Homo sapiens: one gene and its partner. The protein of the gene in region 2 interacts with the protein of the main gene of each other region in a biochemical or structural test. Each region holds a gene or a part of one and is shown on either strand. Other genes may lie near its edges.

Region 1 (8,394 bases), on a different chromosome or scaffold from region 2:
TTCTTTTTACAACAGCTTATTTCCCCTAACTAGATCAGTGGTTCCCAATGTCCCAAAAAGCTTCTTGTATTACCCCCATGGTCCCACAGCTTGAAAGATTTTGGTTATTAAATCAAACACATTTATGAAATAATAGCCTGCTTTTCTCAGTTCTTGATCCTAGTAAGCTTTCTGAACATTGAGAGCGCTGCCAGCCTTTCCTCTCATACCTAACTCTAGGGACTTGGAGTTGGGAGCCACCCACCAAGATCATAAACGCCTTGAATCTGCAGCCCTGTCTCCACACTTCCCATAGCACCTTACTCAGCGCCTTGTGCTTAAAACACACCTAGTAACTGCTTGTGGCATAAACAAGAAGTTTCACACACATGACAGAGGGAGAAGCCCTCTCCAAATGAGCTGGTTGGTGTGCAGAAAGGGGTCATTGTTAAAGGAGGCAGAGCTGGAGGCGAGCCCTTCTCCCTCCATCCACCCGGAGCAGCACCCCCAATTACACCAGCTGGCCTCCAACTTCTGTGTGTGAGCCGATTAAAAAGCACCCTCTCTTCAGTGTCTGGAAACTCCTGCAAGGAAAGTTTGCTGCCCAAAGTTGGCTTTTGACTAGAGTCTTAATAAGAGGCCTCAGCAGGCTGTGGTTAGAGAGACAATGTCACTTAGAGGAGCAGCTTGAAGCGGCAGTTAGGAGAAGAATTATTTTAATGAATACATTTCCTTTCAATTGTATGGGAATATCAAGATCCCATTAGAATGGGGAAGCAATTAGAACTAATAAAGATGAATGCACAGTGCTCTGTGCGTGCGGAATAACAAGCAGCCCACAAAGGGGCTCCAGAGAGGCCGCTGTAATCCAAGCAAACTGGCGGCCAGCAGAGGGGAAACGGCTCTGTTCAGCCGCTCAAAGCCCCTGCGTCCTGCACATTCTGATCACGGCCTGCGAATGGCGTGAGGTGGGCCTTCGAGGTGGGGGTTGGGCCCCCCGCCCTTGCCCAGCCTCTTGGGGATTGAGATGGGCTGTTGGCAGCCCCTTGGCAACAGCCATTCAGACCAGGGCCCTGGCTCCTGGCCAGGCTCTCGCCCGCCCCTTGCACTGGGCCTCATTGTGTCCAGGTGGCAAATGCCTTCTCGCCAACTCTCCTTCGAGGTTTAGAGAGGGGGTGGGACAGTGGAAGAGGGAGAAGGGGATGAATGAGTAGGGGGCCCTCTGCCCCCTGCCATTCCCCCTCCCCCGCTGGCCAGGGTCTGCTCCTCCTCTGGGTTTGGTGTTATATTACAGACACTGGTGAGTCACTGGCAGCCAAACACAGAAGTACTGTTGCTTACACAATTACTCTTCAAAAAGTAACAAACAATTTTCATTACCCAAGTCAGATCGAATCATTCGCCTGGCCATCCTGCCTCAATCCCAGCCCCATAGACGGGACCCAAAGCCTCACACTCTGCCCATTCTGCTCTGACAAAACCAGCTTCAATTTGTCCCGGCCTAGGGATAGGGACAGAGCTCTTCCTCTGATCCCTGTTTGGAGCCAGATCAGCTGCACGGCTGTCAAGACTGTCAGGAGAAATAGGGAAGACACAAGCACCCACGCAGCCTGGAGACCATCAGATCTGGGGTGACATGTTACTGAGCACCTGTGTGAAGAAGGCATTCAAGAGTTTGGAGGACTCTATTGCCAAGTTTAGAAGGAATCCAACAAGATAACCCTGGCTCTGCACCAAAGTATTCACTGGCCTCAAATGGAGTGTCAGTACTTGACATTTCTTTATTTAATCTTTTTTGGCCAGACAGTTTTTTCAATGAGGAATGTGTAAGCTATTCCGAAATGTCTGTCTAAGAGGCCAGTCACCCTCATTACTGGGATTTTTCCACCATATCTCTTTTAGAAAAGGGTCTGTAACATTTTATATTTATTTCTTAATGGTGGAGCACTTTAAACGCATATTTACATGTATAATCTTGATTGAACTTCAAAATAACTCTGTAAGGATGGGCAAAGCAAGGGTTGTTGGGGCCTAAAGATGAGGAAAAGGTGGCTCAGAGAGGTTCAGCACCCTGTGCAAGGTCACAGAATGGGCGAGTACTGACCTGGTTCAGCACTTTGTCCCAGGAAACCTCCTCCGCGTCTCCACAGAGTGCTGGGCATTTCAGGACAGCTCAGCTGCAATTCTGCTTTTCCAGTGGAACATCCTTCTCTCTTCCACGTATGAAACTTTACGAAGCACTGTGGGCTTTTGAAGACTCTAGTCTAGGCTAAGAAGGATCCTCTCTCAAGAAGATTCCAACCCAATAGTCATTAAAGCATATGTTTCGTCATCTCCCAAACCAAAGGCATATATCTTTTGTCCCTTTTAAAAGTTTAGGTAAGGAATGTGTTAAAAGTCTGCCTGTTGCCGGAAATGGTGGCTCATGCCGGTAATCCCAGCACTTTGGGAGGCCGAGGCAGGCGGATCACGAGGTCAGGAGATCGTGACCATCCTGGCTAACACGGTGAAACCCCATCTCTACTAAAAAAAAAAATACAAAAAATTAGCTGCATGGTGGCAGACGCCTGTAGTCCCAGCTACTCGGGAGGCTGAGGCAGGAGAATGGCGTGAACGTGGGAGACGGAGCTTGCAGTGAGCCGAGATGCGCCACTGCACTCCAGCCTGGGCGACAGAGTGAGACTTCGTCTCAAAAAAAAAAAAAAAAAAAAAAAAAAATTCTGTGTGTCCGGTTACATGGTGGACATAACAAAAAAAAAAATGGGAAAAATTATTGTTTGCATTCCTTCCACTGTAACATGGTAACATCTAGCGATCGGCAAGTGGTAATGCAGAGTCCATTCACCTTTCTTACTCCTCGCCTCCTCCCATACCTAAAGGGCTGTTCATTTTTTAAAATCCTTTTTTATTTTTATAAATTTTGAGGTATGATTCATACACTATGAAATGCATACCTGGCTGGGCATGGTGGCTTACACCTGTAATCCCAGCATTTTGGGAGGCTGAGGCAGGCAGATCACTTGAGGTCAGGAGTTTGAGACCAGCTTGGCCAACATGGTGAAACCCCGTCTCTGTTAAAAATACAAAAATCAGCCAGGTGTGGTGGCAGGTGCCTGTAATCCCAGCTACTTGGAAGGCTGAGGCAAGAGAAGCACTTGAACCTGGAGGCAAGGGTTGCAGTGGCAGGGGTTGCAGTGAGCTGAGATTGTGCCATTGCACCACTCCAGCCTGGGTAACAGAGTGAGACCCTGTCGCAAAGAAAAGAAAAGAAAAGAAAAGAAATGCATAGCTATTAAGCGTACAGTTTCACAAGTTTTGACAAATGTATACCTACATCCAAATCAAGACACAGAACGTTGCCATCACCACTGAAAGTTCCTGGATACCCCTTTCCAGTCAACACCACCCCAGGCCTCCACTGTCCTAATTTCTATCACCATAGATTAGCTTATCCTGCCTCGAACATCAGATAAATGGAATCATATTATACGTATAATCTTTTGTATCTTTCATCTGTCACTCAACATATCTGCCAGACTCATTCACATTGTGTCAGTAGTTTGTTCCTTCTTATGAGTAGTATCGTCATTTATTCAGTTCTTAAAATCCAGCCCTATTACCACAGATTTGTCCCTCAAAATTCTTTTCATTTAATATATCTTCTGCATGCTCCTTTCCGTGCATGTATCTCCTGCATATCTCCCTGGCAATCCTTGTAGTGAGGAAAATATGTAAGTGGACTATTTTATCTCTAGCACTGTCCTTTTAGGTATGGGTGGCTCTCTCTACCTTCAGGAAAAACAGATAACCAGGCAGTCTTGCTTCAGAGTTTACAGATCTGGGTTTTCATTTCTTGTCTAGCACTTAACAGATGGGTGGTTCAGGGCAGGTGATTTAACCTCTCTGTGACTGTTTTCCCATTTGTAAATGTGGATAATAATACCTTCTTAATAGGGATTTGTGAGGACAAAATTATATTGTACATAGAATGTTTGGCACAATGAAAACTAATAATAGCCTCAAGCTAGGCTATAATAAACATCCTCTCCTGCTTCATTCACATACTTCCAGGTTTGTAAGTCATATGATACAAGTGGGTATAAATTTTCAAAAGTTTTTAAAAGGAAGATTTCATATTTAGATTTAGAAAAGTCTATCAGATATTTACTTAAAATAAGTAACTGTTATTTCCTAGGGAAAAAAGTAAAGCCTTCTGTCATTTATTCATTGGCAATTATATATCGAGTATTGACTAAGAGAAGCTCTTCAAAAGAGTTAAAAACATAGCCCTAGCTTTTAGGATGTTTGGTTTGGGGAGGGTAATAAGATAAGCACAACAAATTATAATACAAAATATAGTAAATGATAATAATAATAATTAACATCTATGAATGTAGTGGTTAAGAGCACAGTCTCTGGAGTCATACTATATGGGTTCACATCCCAGCTGTGTGATGTTGGGCAAGTTACTTAACCTCCTTGTGTGTAACCTCACCTGGAAAATGGGGCTAATACCACTTACCTAGCAGGGCTACAGTATCAGAAAAAAGTGGCCCAGGGTGTTTGAGCATCCTGTACAAGGTCACAGAATGGGTGAGTACTGACCCGGTTCAGTGCTATGTCCCAGGACACCTCCTCCGCATCTCCACAGAGTGCTAGGCATTCCAGGACAGTTCATCTTGCAATTCTAATATTGTATATTGCATATAAAAATATGCATTAATTAACAGCTAACATGTATTGAATATCAATATGTGCCAAGCACTGTGTTAAATGCTTATGTGCATTACTTCACATAATCTCCACAATGCTGTTACTACTATTATACTCATTTTACTGATAAGGTAACAGAAGGGCAGAAGTTTAGGTAACTTGCCCAAGATTACATAGCTAGTAAGTAGCAAACTGTGTCACAGAAAAGATACAATCATCTATAAAATGGGGATGATGGTATTAGTACCTACATTAGTGAGAATCTGATGAATTAATATTTGAAAAGTGATTAGAACGGAGCCTGGCACCTAATAAAGCCTATATATGTGGATGTTAACAATTGCTAAGGTGATTCAGAGATGACAGTAAATAACTTCTATGCGTGGTGACTAAGGAAGGCTTGGGAAGGTGATGTTTAAACTGGGCCCTGAATAGTGGACAGGATTTGGAGAAATGGAGGTGATAGAGAGGGCATTTCTGACAGGGAAGGAAGGGAGGGAGGGAGGGAAGAAGGAAGGAAGGAAGGAAGGAAAGAAGGAAGGAAGGAAGGAAGGAAAGAAGGAAGGAAGGAAGGCAGGAAGGGAAGGAGGGAAGGGAGGGAGGAAGGAAGGAAGGAGGGAAGGAAAGAAGGAAGGAAGGAGCAAGAAGCAGAAGAAAGCTCAGAGTGTGTAAAAAGAGAAAAAGAAAAGAAATACATGGGAGTAGTCAAATTTGACTTGCGCAAAAAAAAAAAAAAAAAAGAACAAACTTCCCCTTTCTTCCAACCAGTCCCTATTCCTGCTGTACTTCTCAGTATTTTCCTCTTATCCCCATGGAATCTGCTGTCCTTACTCCCTCATCATAATGATCCATTGAATATTTATTGAGTTCCTCTCCGTGTCAGGCACTGCTCTAGGCACCGAGGATACAACCCAGTAAATAGGCCGGGTCCCAGTTCCTAGTTTGCACTATAATAATCCTCCAAACTGGATTCTAGCTTTTAGCCGGCCGAACTCCAATCTATCTTCCACAATACCGCCAGAACCGAAGACACAGATCTGGTCTGGACACTCACTTGCTTAAATCCCGCTGCAGTATTTTCTCTTTACGTCCAGAATAAATTTCAGTCTCCCTAGCATCCTTTACTAATTGGTTCGCACAGTCTTACCTCGCAGCCTTCACCGTGCACTCTGCACAAGAGCCCCGGTAAAGCACTGAAAATCCCAGATACACACACTCACAAATAGGCACTTGCAGAAAGAACGTGGGGGGCACTCCATCCCTATTTCATCTCTTGTACACCGAAACATTCCCCAGTCTGCATGCCTTGGATGGGAGAGTCCTGGTTACATTCCCCCGCCCCCGACTTTTCAAGCCTAAAATCCGTCACAGGGCGCACCCCCGTCCCCACCCTCCAGGGCATTTCCACTTATAGCAGCCTGGGCACACCCCCAACCCAGAAGGGACCGGAAAAGGAGGGGCTGCGCGCGGCACTAGGGTCGCCGTCCTGGCTGAGGTGGCCGGAAGTGGCCCCTCGCGCGGGCGCGGACTGAGGCTGCGCGCCGCAGGTTCCGGCTGCTGGCGGCGTTGCGGCCGCAGGTTTGACTCCCGTGCGGTGCGGCCCAGCAGCCACAAAGCTCCCGCTGCCATTGCTCCTTGTACTCCCGCCGTCACTGCCGCTGTCCAACCCCTCCCCCGGGGCTTGCGCGGCGGCTCCCACACCCCTCGGCCCGTGTACGCGCTCTGCACCTGCCTGCCCGAAAACATGTTGCAGACACCAGAGAGCAGGGGGCTCCCGGTCCCGCAGGCCGAGGGGGAGAAGGATGGCGGCCATGATGGTGAGACCCGGGCCCCGACCGCCTCGCAGGAGCGCCCCAAGGAGGAGCTTGGCGCCGGGAGGGAGGAGGGGGCTGCGGAGCCCGCCCTCACCCGGAAAGGCGCGAGGGCCTTGGCGGCCAAAGCCTTGGCAAGGCGCAGGGCCTACCGCCGGCTGAATCGGACGGTGGCGGAGTTGGTGCAGTTCCTCCTGGTGAAAGACAAGAAGAAGAGTCCCATCACACGCTCGGAGATGGTGAAATACGTTATTGGAGACTTGAAGATTCTGTTCCCGGACATCATCGCAAGGGCCGCAGAGCATCTGCGGTATGTCTTTGGTTTTGAGCTGAAACAGTTTGACCGCAAGCACCACACTTACATCCTGATCAACAAACTAAAACCTCTGGAGGAGGAGGAGGAGGAGGATCTGGGAGGAGATGGCCCCAGATTGGGTCTGTTAATGATGATCCTGGGCCTTATCTATATGAGAGGTAATAGCGCCAGGGAGGCCCAGGTCTGGGAGATGCTGCGTCGGTTGGGGGTGCAACCCTCAAAGTATCATTTCCTCTTTGGGTATCCGAAGAGGCTTATTATGGAAGATTTTGTGCAGCAGCGATATCTCAGTTACAGGCGGGTGCCTCACACCAATCCACCAGAATATGAATTCTCTTGGGGTCCCCGAAGCAACCTGGAAATCAGCAAGATGGAAGTCCTGGGGTTCGTGGCCAAACTGCATAAGAAGGAACCGCAGCACTGGCCAGTGCAGTACCGTGAGGCCCTAGCAGACGAGGCCGACAGGGCCAGAGCCAAGGCCAGAGCTGAAGCCAGTATGAGGGCCAGGGCCAGTGCTAGGGCCGGCATCCACCTCTGGTGAGGGTTGGTGAAAAGTTGGCCAGTGGGTCCCCGTGAGGACGAACTACTGTCCTGAGTCATAAGTAATATGGGTGGGGCGAGGGTCTTATTTCTGTAGAAATCGTGTGACTTTAAGGATTTAGATTTTGTATCTTATGTTTTGTAACATTTAATAATTACTGTTAAAATGCTGTTTGTAAATGAGATTGGTCTACTTTTTCCTGTAGGATTTTATTGTAGAGTTTTGCTGGTTTTGTAAAATGGATGGAAGAACTTTGTATTTATACTGTGATTTTGAACAGATTATGCAACATTGGAAGGAAGGCTGTACTTTGATGGTTTGAAGGAACTCAGCAGTATGATGATCTGGTTCCAGGGGAAAAAAATAGCTGGTTGGTGTCTAGCCCCCCAACACTTTTGTCTGTTGTGTATAAAAGAAGAAAGACTGGCATGTACCTTCATTTGCTTAGCTATTTGAGTATCTAGAGAAAAATTAAAATGCAATGAGTTAGCAGTATACCCTGGCACACTTAATAAATTAAACATTTGTGGAGCATCTTGTTTTCTGTGATGCACTGTGTGGGCACTTGGGGATAGAATACTAAACAAGATAAAGGTCCTACTTTTTTTCAGAATTGAAGAGTAAGTAAATAAACAAGAAATTAGCAGTGCAATGAGTTGAAGTCTACAAAGGGATACTTAACCCAGCTGGGATGATTGAGTGAGGTTTGCTGTAATCCCAGCACTTTGGGAGGCCGAGGCGGACTGATCACCGGAGTCAGGAGTTCAAGACCAGCCTGGCCAACATGGTGAAACCCTGTTTCTACTAAAATTACAAAAATTAACCAGGCGTGGTGGCACACACCTGTAATCCCAGCTACTTGGGAGGCCAAGGCACAAGAATCTCTTGAATCTAGGAGACGGAGGTTGCAGTGAGCCGAGATCATACCACTGCACTCCAGCTTGGGAGACAGAGCAAGACCCCGTCTCAGAAAAAAATAAGAAATAAAAATAATGATTTCAGATCACAGCTACTCCTCAGTAATGTGAGCAGAC
Region 2 (8,485 bases):
CAAAAATAAAATAAAATAATAAAATAAATGAAATTTATTTAATTTTAACTGTTTTTTTTTTTTTTTTGAGATGGAGTTTTGCTCTTGTTGCCCAGGCTGGGGTGCAATGCACGATACCAGCTCACTGCAACCTCTGCCTCCCGGATTCAAGCAATTCTCCTGCCTCGGCCTCCCGAGCAGCTGGGATTACAGGCATGCACCACCGTGCCCAGCTAATTTTGTATTTTTAGTAGAGACGGGGTTTCTCCATGTTGGTCAGGCTAGTCTCGAACTCCCGACCTCAGGTGATCTGCCCACCTCAGCCTCCCAAAGTGCTGGGATTACAGGCGTGAGCTACCGCGCCCAGCCTTAATTTTAATTATTTAAAATATATATATATATATATATATATATATATAAATATATATATATATATAAAACTCTGTAGAGTTCAGACTCCTCACTTGTGTTCTAAGTCTATTTATCCTATTTATCCCCTGCTACTTAGGATCCCTTAGCTTCCTATAAAAAACTTTCTGCTACATCACACCAGGGCAAACATGAGATTTTGTCAAATACTTTTTCTGTACCTATTGAGATAAACACAAGATTTTTCTTTTTTAGCTTAATATGGTGAATTACACTGATTTTCAAATATTAATACTAAATCAACCCTGCAAAATCAGGATAAACCCTACTTGGTTATGTCGTACCATCCTTTGTAAACACTGTTAGATTAGATTTGCCACAGTTGGGTTTAGCACGTTAACGTCTACGCTCATGAGGAGTCTTGTTTGGGGTTTTCTTTCCTCGCAATGTCTTTGTCTGGTTATGGTATCAGAATCATGCAGGTCTCATAGAATTAGTTGTAACATATTCTCTTCAATTTTACAGAAGAGTTTGGGTAGAAATGGTGTGAGTTCTTCCTCAAATGTTTGGGCCGGGCACTATTCCCAGTTCTGTGAATAGCTGGCATTGTTTTCTCTAATCCTTCAACTAGTTCTCTCCCTGGCCTTAAGAAGTTTTCTTGCTCATCAGTTCTCAGCGGGATCCTTGAGTGGAGGGGCACTTTGGACATCTCAAGTTTTCTCTCTGTGCACCTCTGGTCCACCTTATACTCCATTGTAAGTACTCCGTCCTGCAACCTCTACCTGCCTTAGTCTCCCTGAACTCTCATCTCCATCTCCTCAACGCAGGGAGGCTGCCTAGCTCTGCCTGGGTTTCCCCTGTGCCATGGCCTAGAAACTTTCTAAAGGCACTGAGCTGGGGCAGCTGTACTGCTCACTCCCACTATCGCTTGTGGCAGAAGAAAGTTACTTGGTCTTTCCCCCAGGTTCCTGGTACAGAACTTCTAAAACTCTTAGAATTCCCTGAGTCATATAGGTGATAGAAGCATCTTTTGCTCTAATGAGGCAACTCTTGGCAGGCCCCTAGGATGGGGGCTGGTCACCAGAATGACCAAGCCTCAATAAAAAACATGGAACTTTCAGCCACTCCCCAATATCTGAGGAGAAGAGAGGGACTGGAGATGGAAGCACTCGTCAACGGCCAGTGACTGATCAATCATGCCTGTGTAAAGAAACCTCCATAGAAACCCAGGAATGGCCAGGCACGGTGGCTAAATAAATATTTCAAATCATTTCTAATGGTGGATTCACAATTTTGTGGGATTATTTTTCTTAGAGTGTGCCAAATTCAATAATCAACAGGCCCTATAAAACCTGAAACTGGGCTGGGTGCAGTGGCTCACGCCTGAATCCCAACATTTTGGAAGGCTGACGCAGGATGATCACTTGAGCCTAGGTGTTCGAGACCAGCCTAGGCCACAGAAGAAGACCCCCGTCTCTACAAATAATTTAAAACTTAGCCGGGCGCGGTGGCTCATGCCTGTAATCCCAGCACTTGGGGAGGCGGAGGCAGGCGGATCACCTGAGGTCAGAAGTTCGAGACCAGCCTGGCCAACATGGTGAAACCCCATCTCTACTAAAACCACAAAAATTAGCCGGGTGTGGTGGCTCACGCCTGTAGTCCCAGCTACTCAGGCGGCTGAGGCAGGAGAATCGCTTGAACCTGGGAGGCAGAGGTTGCAGTGAGCCGAGATCTTGCCATTGCACTCCAGCCTGGGCGACAAGAGCAAAACTGTCTCAAAAAAAATAAAAATAAAAATAAAAAAGAAACCCTTGAACGACAGGATTTGAAGAGCTTCGGGTTATTAAACACACAGAGGCGTTGAGACGGTGGTGCAAGTAGAGAGGGCACGGAAACTCCATGCCACCCCCACTTCCCACAGCTGGCCCTGTGATCTCTCCTATGTGGCTGTTCCTGAGTTGTAGCCTTTATAAAAAAACCACGTAAGTCAAAATGTAAGTAAAGTGTTTTCCTGAGTTCTATGAATCATTCTAGAAAATTATCAAATCCAAAGAGGGAGTTATGGGAACCACTGATGTACAGCCATTGGTCAGAAACACAGGTAGCCCAGGACTTACAACTGGTGTCTTAAGTTGGGTCAGTCTTGTGACACTGAGCCCTTTAACTTGTAGGATTTGATGCTAACTCCAGGCAGATAGTGTCAGAATTAAACTGAATTATGGAATGCCCAGTTGTTATCTAGAGAACTGGAGTAGTGTTAGAAAAGATACCACATCAAGTGTCAAGAGAAAAAGAAACCCTCATTGCCCATCTCTCGAAAGATCACTGGCCTTGACTGACGAATGTCCAGTATTTTATACTTTGTCCATTTTTGAATTGTTTCAGGCAAGAAGGTGTACTGAGCCCTGTTGCTCCATACTGGCCAAAAGTGGAAAACCTCAAACCCAAGCCTTCTCCACCACCCCCGAGGCCTCCTGTGCCGACTTCTATCAAGGAGGCCTATATTGGAATCATCTGACCCCTTGTCTGTATGACTCATGAGAGCCATGGTAAAATAAAAATTCAATCTCTGAGTCACCAGTCCCTAGCACAGAGGCCTGGCTCACTTGAGATTCTAGGGAAGCTTTGCTGGTTGAATAAACGTATGTGTGGATGCAAGTCCTGGCTCAAAAATCTAAGGTCCTCTAAGAACACAGGTCCCTAGCGCCATTCCGAAAGGCTCGACCCAAGGCCTGCACTGAACTTGAGAACAAAATCTAAACTCTTCACTAGCCAGGAGAATTGGGGACTTTGTTTCCCCTTAACGACAGTAAGAAGAGAACCCAAACCAAAGCCTAGAATAAGAAGTGATTTGATAAACTGGACAAACACCCTGGGAAATGGCAATTAGAATAACTTGCAATTTCAATCACTCCTTTGTTTCATAATTTTCCTAGAAGCTAAATATTTTTCTATTTGGTACAAGGGGATTTTCCTGGCCATCTCTTCAAAAGATAGGAAATTAATAATATTGGGTCTTGCGAGTATTCACTTAAGTTTAGATAATTTCTGTCATTTCCTGTTTAAAATCTCCCTAATAACAAGAACATGCAGTAACAAGTTTTTTGGCATTTTTCTTAAATGAAGATAGGACAAAATAGATTGTTCTACCCTGTTCACCCTGGCCATAACCATATCTAGGTGCAAAGAAATGGTACACAGTGTGAAGAATAAATCAATTCCTAGACACATTCTACAGGACTTTCCTAAATTAGATCATAACAATTTTAAAGGTCAAATAAAGGCAAAAACACTTTCAGTCTTAGTACCAAGGCATCATGTGGCTCCTTGCAGTGAGCTGTGAAACTTCCCCACCAACATGAAAGCTTACAGTCAAGACTCACAGGAGAAAAAAAGAGAAAAGGACTAAATTGTCGTGTAAATAAGAGATTCAGGATTAACACAAGCATTCTTTTATTTTTTTGAGATGGGGGTTCACTGTGTTGCCCAGGCTGGAGTGCAGTGGTGCAACCTCAGCTCACTGCAACCCCCACCTCCCCTGCTCAAGCGATCCTCCTGCCTCAGCTTCCTGGGTAGCTAGGACCATAGGTGTGTGCCAGCACACCTGGCTAATTTTTTGTACTTTTGGTAGAGACTGGGTTTCACCATGTTGCTCAGGCTGAAGACAAGCGTTCTTATGCACATTTCTGGAGGATATTGAGGGGTAGGTTTAAAGTCCAACCATGCTTTTTTTTTTTTTTTTTTTTTTTTTTTTTTTGATACATGGTCTCGCTCTGTCGCCCAAGCTGGAGTGCAGGGGCAGGATCTCAGCTCACTGCAGCATCTGCCTCCCAGGTTCAAGCAATTATCCTGCCTCAGCCTCCCAAGTAGCTGGGACTACAGGCATGCACCACCACACCCGGCTAATTTTTGTATTTTTAGTAGAGATGGAGTTTCACCATGTTGACCAGGCTGGTCTTGAACTCCTGACCTCAGGTGACCCACCCTCCTCAGCCTCCCAAAGTGCTGGGATTACAGGTGTGAGCCACCACACCCAGCCGCTACTATGCTTTTTAAAGAGCAAGAGAAACTAGCTTAACAGGTATAACATCCCCTTTCAATACAAAAGTCTCTCACCAAAGATCCTTCTCTGCTGGTACAACTGCGGCGCATCTACCTTCACCACGGAGATGGTTCTCAAACCTAAAACTGTCTCTCTCACTCTCTGCTTTGAATACTTCAAGAGGGCCACACTGTCCGCAGAAGTAAAAAGCCATTACTATGGTGTATAGGGTTCTTCATGATCTGCAAACCTACACACGAAAAGAATGTATTCTCTTCCCACACATCATATATTCTTGTCTAGGGATTCCCAGGGTAGGTTATCAGTAGGTCAATTAGGTTTGGATACACAGAATTAAACACAGTTCAACAGGCTAACTTGTTCCTGGCATTACTGAGCTCCCAGAATTCCCCATGGAACACCTCCATGGACCAGTGCTCTGGAGAACGCAGATGCTACTCTCCAGACACTTCAAACTGCTTCTTCTCCGTCTAACACGCCACCTTCTTTTATTCCTCCTTCCTTTGCACACCTTGAAAGAATATTCGTTTCTGTTCTGTCTCCCTCTTCTTATTCCCATTCACTGCTCACCTCTCTGGGATCAGGCTTTGAACTCTAACATGCTGCAGAAACTGCAGTGCTCCAAATGTGACACCTACCTTTTCTCGTGTCCCTTCACATTTTGAAAAGTATAAAATGATCTTCATCACTTTTGAATGCATTTGCATGCAAAGGCATAAAAGTGGCTGGGAAGAAGATGTAATGCACTCATGAAGTGTTTGCCTTTGGGGACAGGAGGGACACCCTTTCTGGTGTCCCTTCGCCCTTTCACAGCTCACTGCAAGGAGCTACAGGATGCCTGTGGACTAAGAATGAAAGCATCTTTTTGCCTTTTTTTTGTGTCCCTTCACCTGTGTACTTGCTCCCTGTGTACCTGTACACGCCCTTTCTCATACCTCTTGGCTTGGCTCACTTCTATGTCATTTTTTATCTTTTTCTTTTGAAAATTAAAAATACAGAGAGAAAGGCAGAATAAGGCAGAATAAAAACCAAACGCCTGCATTCCCATTCATCAGAGGTGACAACCAGTAGACTACACTAATTAATGTCATGTTGTTAGGCTAATAATGTCACGTTGGCTTCAAGACTTTTCTTTTTAATAAAAGAACATAACAGGATAAAAGTGAAGGGTCCTGTGATCTCTGCTGACAGCCCACTCCCACTCTGCTTCTCCTCACAAGCACCTCACAAGTGTCCTGCGTCTTCTTCTGGTCCACTTTTATACCTTTACATGCAAATGCATTCATAACCAATGAAAACGATTTTGTACTTCACAAAAAAACAACATAATCACATCATACAATTACTCATCCATCACCTTTGTCACTGCATAAAATCTAATCAGTAAGATCTACCCATATTGGCACACAACTCAACAATATCTGCCAATGCTAATTCGACTGATCTATCAACACTGATCCTACTGTTTCTTCCACCATCTCCAGTTACTTAGAACTTAGCACCATGTCCTGTCTCCAAGGGCTTCTTATTTGCCCCTCCCAGTGGCCCCGTAAGATGCCCCAAATGCCTTCAGCTGACACAGGGCAGGGACACACTCTTCAGGTCCGGCCCAGTCTAAGGCTGTGCCCTTAAGTGTTGTGCTAAGCTCCCCCATTTTTTTGTTTTATAATTTATTTTCTTTTTTTCAAATAAAAAAATAGAGAGGGTCTTGCTACATTGCCCAGGCTGGTCCCAAACTCCTGGCCTCAAGCTATCCTCCCACCTTGATTCCCAGAGTGCAGGGATAACAGCGTGAGCCACCGCACCCAGCCAAGCTGCCCTGTGTCCATCAATACCCCACTAGGCACTGTCTCTGCGCCACTGTCTTGTACATATCATGTCTCTCAATTCCCTGAACCATGCACTTACTTATGTGTTAAGTACAATTACTATCCTCACTTTACAGATACAGAAACTGAGGCTGGGGCAGGTCCTGGAGGCTTGGTGTGAACCACAACTATACAGCTTTAGACTCTAAGTTTTTATCCACAGGGCTAAATGTCAGGTTTACTTGGAAAAAAAATAAAAGTGGAAGATGAAATTAGAAAGATGGGCCCGTGTAAGATTGTGAAGAGGCTTGAATGCTCAGCTCAGGAGTACCGGTTAACAAGTTACATGGTATTGTACCTATGTCACTGGTCCCTGATCAACACAGCACCAGAGCGCCCTGGGAACAGGGAAACGGTACTCACGGTCATGGACCTTGTAGCAGTGCGTCTGCAAGCGCTTCACGTCCCATTCCTCTAGCACGCCATGGGTCATCAGCAACTGGAGGAAGCGCCGGTGGACATCAGTCATGACGCCCATTCTCCTTGTGCTGCCCTGCATGTGGGAACGAACTGAAAAGGAAGTAAATGACACTAGTCAACCCCAAGCACATCAGAAGCAACGTCCTGGGTCTTGTACTAATTTACATTAACAAATATAAATTTGCTATCATTTTTAAAAGTCATTCTTCATGCTGTTTACTACAAAGGTGAGAAGAAGAACACGAGTCACAGCATCAGGACTGGGCAGTGGTAAGAGGTGTGGATTCTGGAGCTAGAATGCCGGGATTCAGGGCCTGGCTCTCCCACTTACTAGGCGTGTGAGATTGAGCAACTTAGTCCCCACAGGCTTTGGTTTCTGATCTGTAAAGTGGGACTAATGATAGAAACGTCCTCTGCAGAACTGCTACGAAGATTAGATGGGTTAATACATGTAATAGCCTGGTAACACAGTAAGCACTAAATAAGTCTGAGCTATTTTTACTATCAGGCAATTCTGGGTCTAACCCTTGGCTGAGCCTTTTTACCAGATCTATGGCCTTGGAGAAATTGAGCAGAGGCCCCGTTTTCTCACCATAAAATTATAATGAAGTTCATTACTGAGAGAACTACTAGTAAACACTTAATAAATGTTAGTTTCCTCCTCTCCCCAAACCACTAATAAAACAACTATCATGGCAGGACTTCAGACTATTTTCGAAATCTCCTGCTCACTAACAAAATGGGATCTTTCCGTAAACCACAAAGATCACAGTTAATAAAACTATTCCACAAGCCCTGATCAAAACGCTGGCTACTGCCATGGAGCACGCAGTGCAGGGGCTAAGAATGTGAATTTGGAACTAAACAGGAAGCACTGAGACCAGAAAGTCCCAGATCTGCCTGATCCTAAGGATTTCCTAATGTGCATTTTAACAATACAGATTCCCAAACCCTTTCCTGGATGTTCTGACTGCAATGGGTCCTGGAATTCTGAGGTGTTTACATTCATTTTAGGTGATGTCAAGATCTGACAAGAAAGAAGTTCACTGGTGCCTTGGGCAAATACAGCAGGCAAACATTTTTAGCTAACAATGCTCAGCCTCCCTAAGGCCTAGTCTCTTCACCTCTAAAACTGGGAAACTAGTAGCTACCTTAAAGACATAGAGGAAGCCTAAATGAGTCACAACTACCAAAGGCTTGCCAAGCACCTGGCACATAAGAGATCCACAAGACTGCTAATTACTGCTCTTTTGTTCTTTTTTTTTTCTTTTTTTTCTGAGATGGAGTCTCACTCTGTTGCCCAGGCTGGAGTGCAGTGGCGTGATCTCGGCTCACTACAACCTCTGCCTCCCGGGTTCCAGTGATTCTCCTGGCTCAGCCTCCCAAGTAGCTGGAACTACAGGCGCCCACCACCGTGCCTGACTAATTTTCGTATTTTTAGTAGAGACGGGTTTCACCATGTTGGCCAGGCTGGCCTCGAACTCCTGACCTCAGGCGATCCACCTGCCTCAGCCTCCCAAAGTGGTGGGATTACAGTGTGAGCCACCACGCCCAGCCAGTGCTGTTCTTTAACAGCATCCTCAACTGGACCTCAGGGCTGGGAAAATGCGCCATCTCATAACCAGTCCCTCCAACTGCCTGCTAGAAAAATATCCTCCATCTCACCAAATCTGCACCTCAACAAAGCCTACGTTAGACTCATCCTCTCCTTCCACCTCCTTAGCCCCTTTCCTCTCCCAAGTCCTTCTCTTTGCAAATCATCTGGTGTGGACGGTGCAGTCCACAC

The links.
Region 1: the proteins of NSMCE1 (region 2) and MAGEF1 form a complex in vitro, tested with the Homo sapiens proteins (2 studies listed by BioGRID).

What each region holds. Positions count from the first base shown.
Region 1 is NC_000003.12:184,709,864-184,718,257, reverse strand, and holds MAGEF1 (melanoma-associated antigen F1), read left to right. Parts: upstream 1-6,193; 5' UTR 6,194-6,436; coding exon 6,437-7,360; 3' UTR 7,361-7,894; downstream 7,895-8,394. UniProt on the Homo sapiens protein: Enhances ubiquitin ligase activity of RING-type zinc finger-containing E3 ubiquitin ligases. Proposed to act through recruitment and/or stabilization of the E2 ubiquitin-conjugating enzyme at the E3:substrate complex.
Region 2 is NC_000016.10:27,250,793-27,259,277, forward strand, and holds part of NSMCE1 (non-structural maintenance of chromosomes element 1 homolog), read right to left. Parts: intron 6,790-8,485; 5' UTR 6,779-6,789; coding exon 6,643-6,778; intron 1-6,642. UniProt on the Homo sapiens protein: RING-type zinc finger-containing E3 ubiquitin ligase that assembles with melanoma antigen protein (MAGE) to catalyze the direct transfer of ubiquitin from E2 ubiquitin-conjugating enzyme to a specific substrate.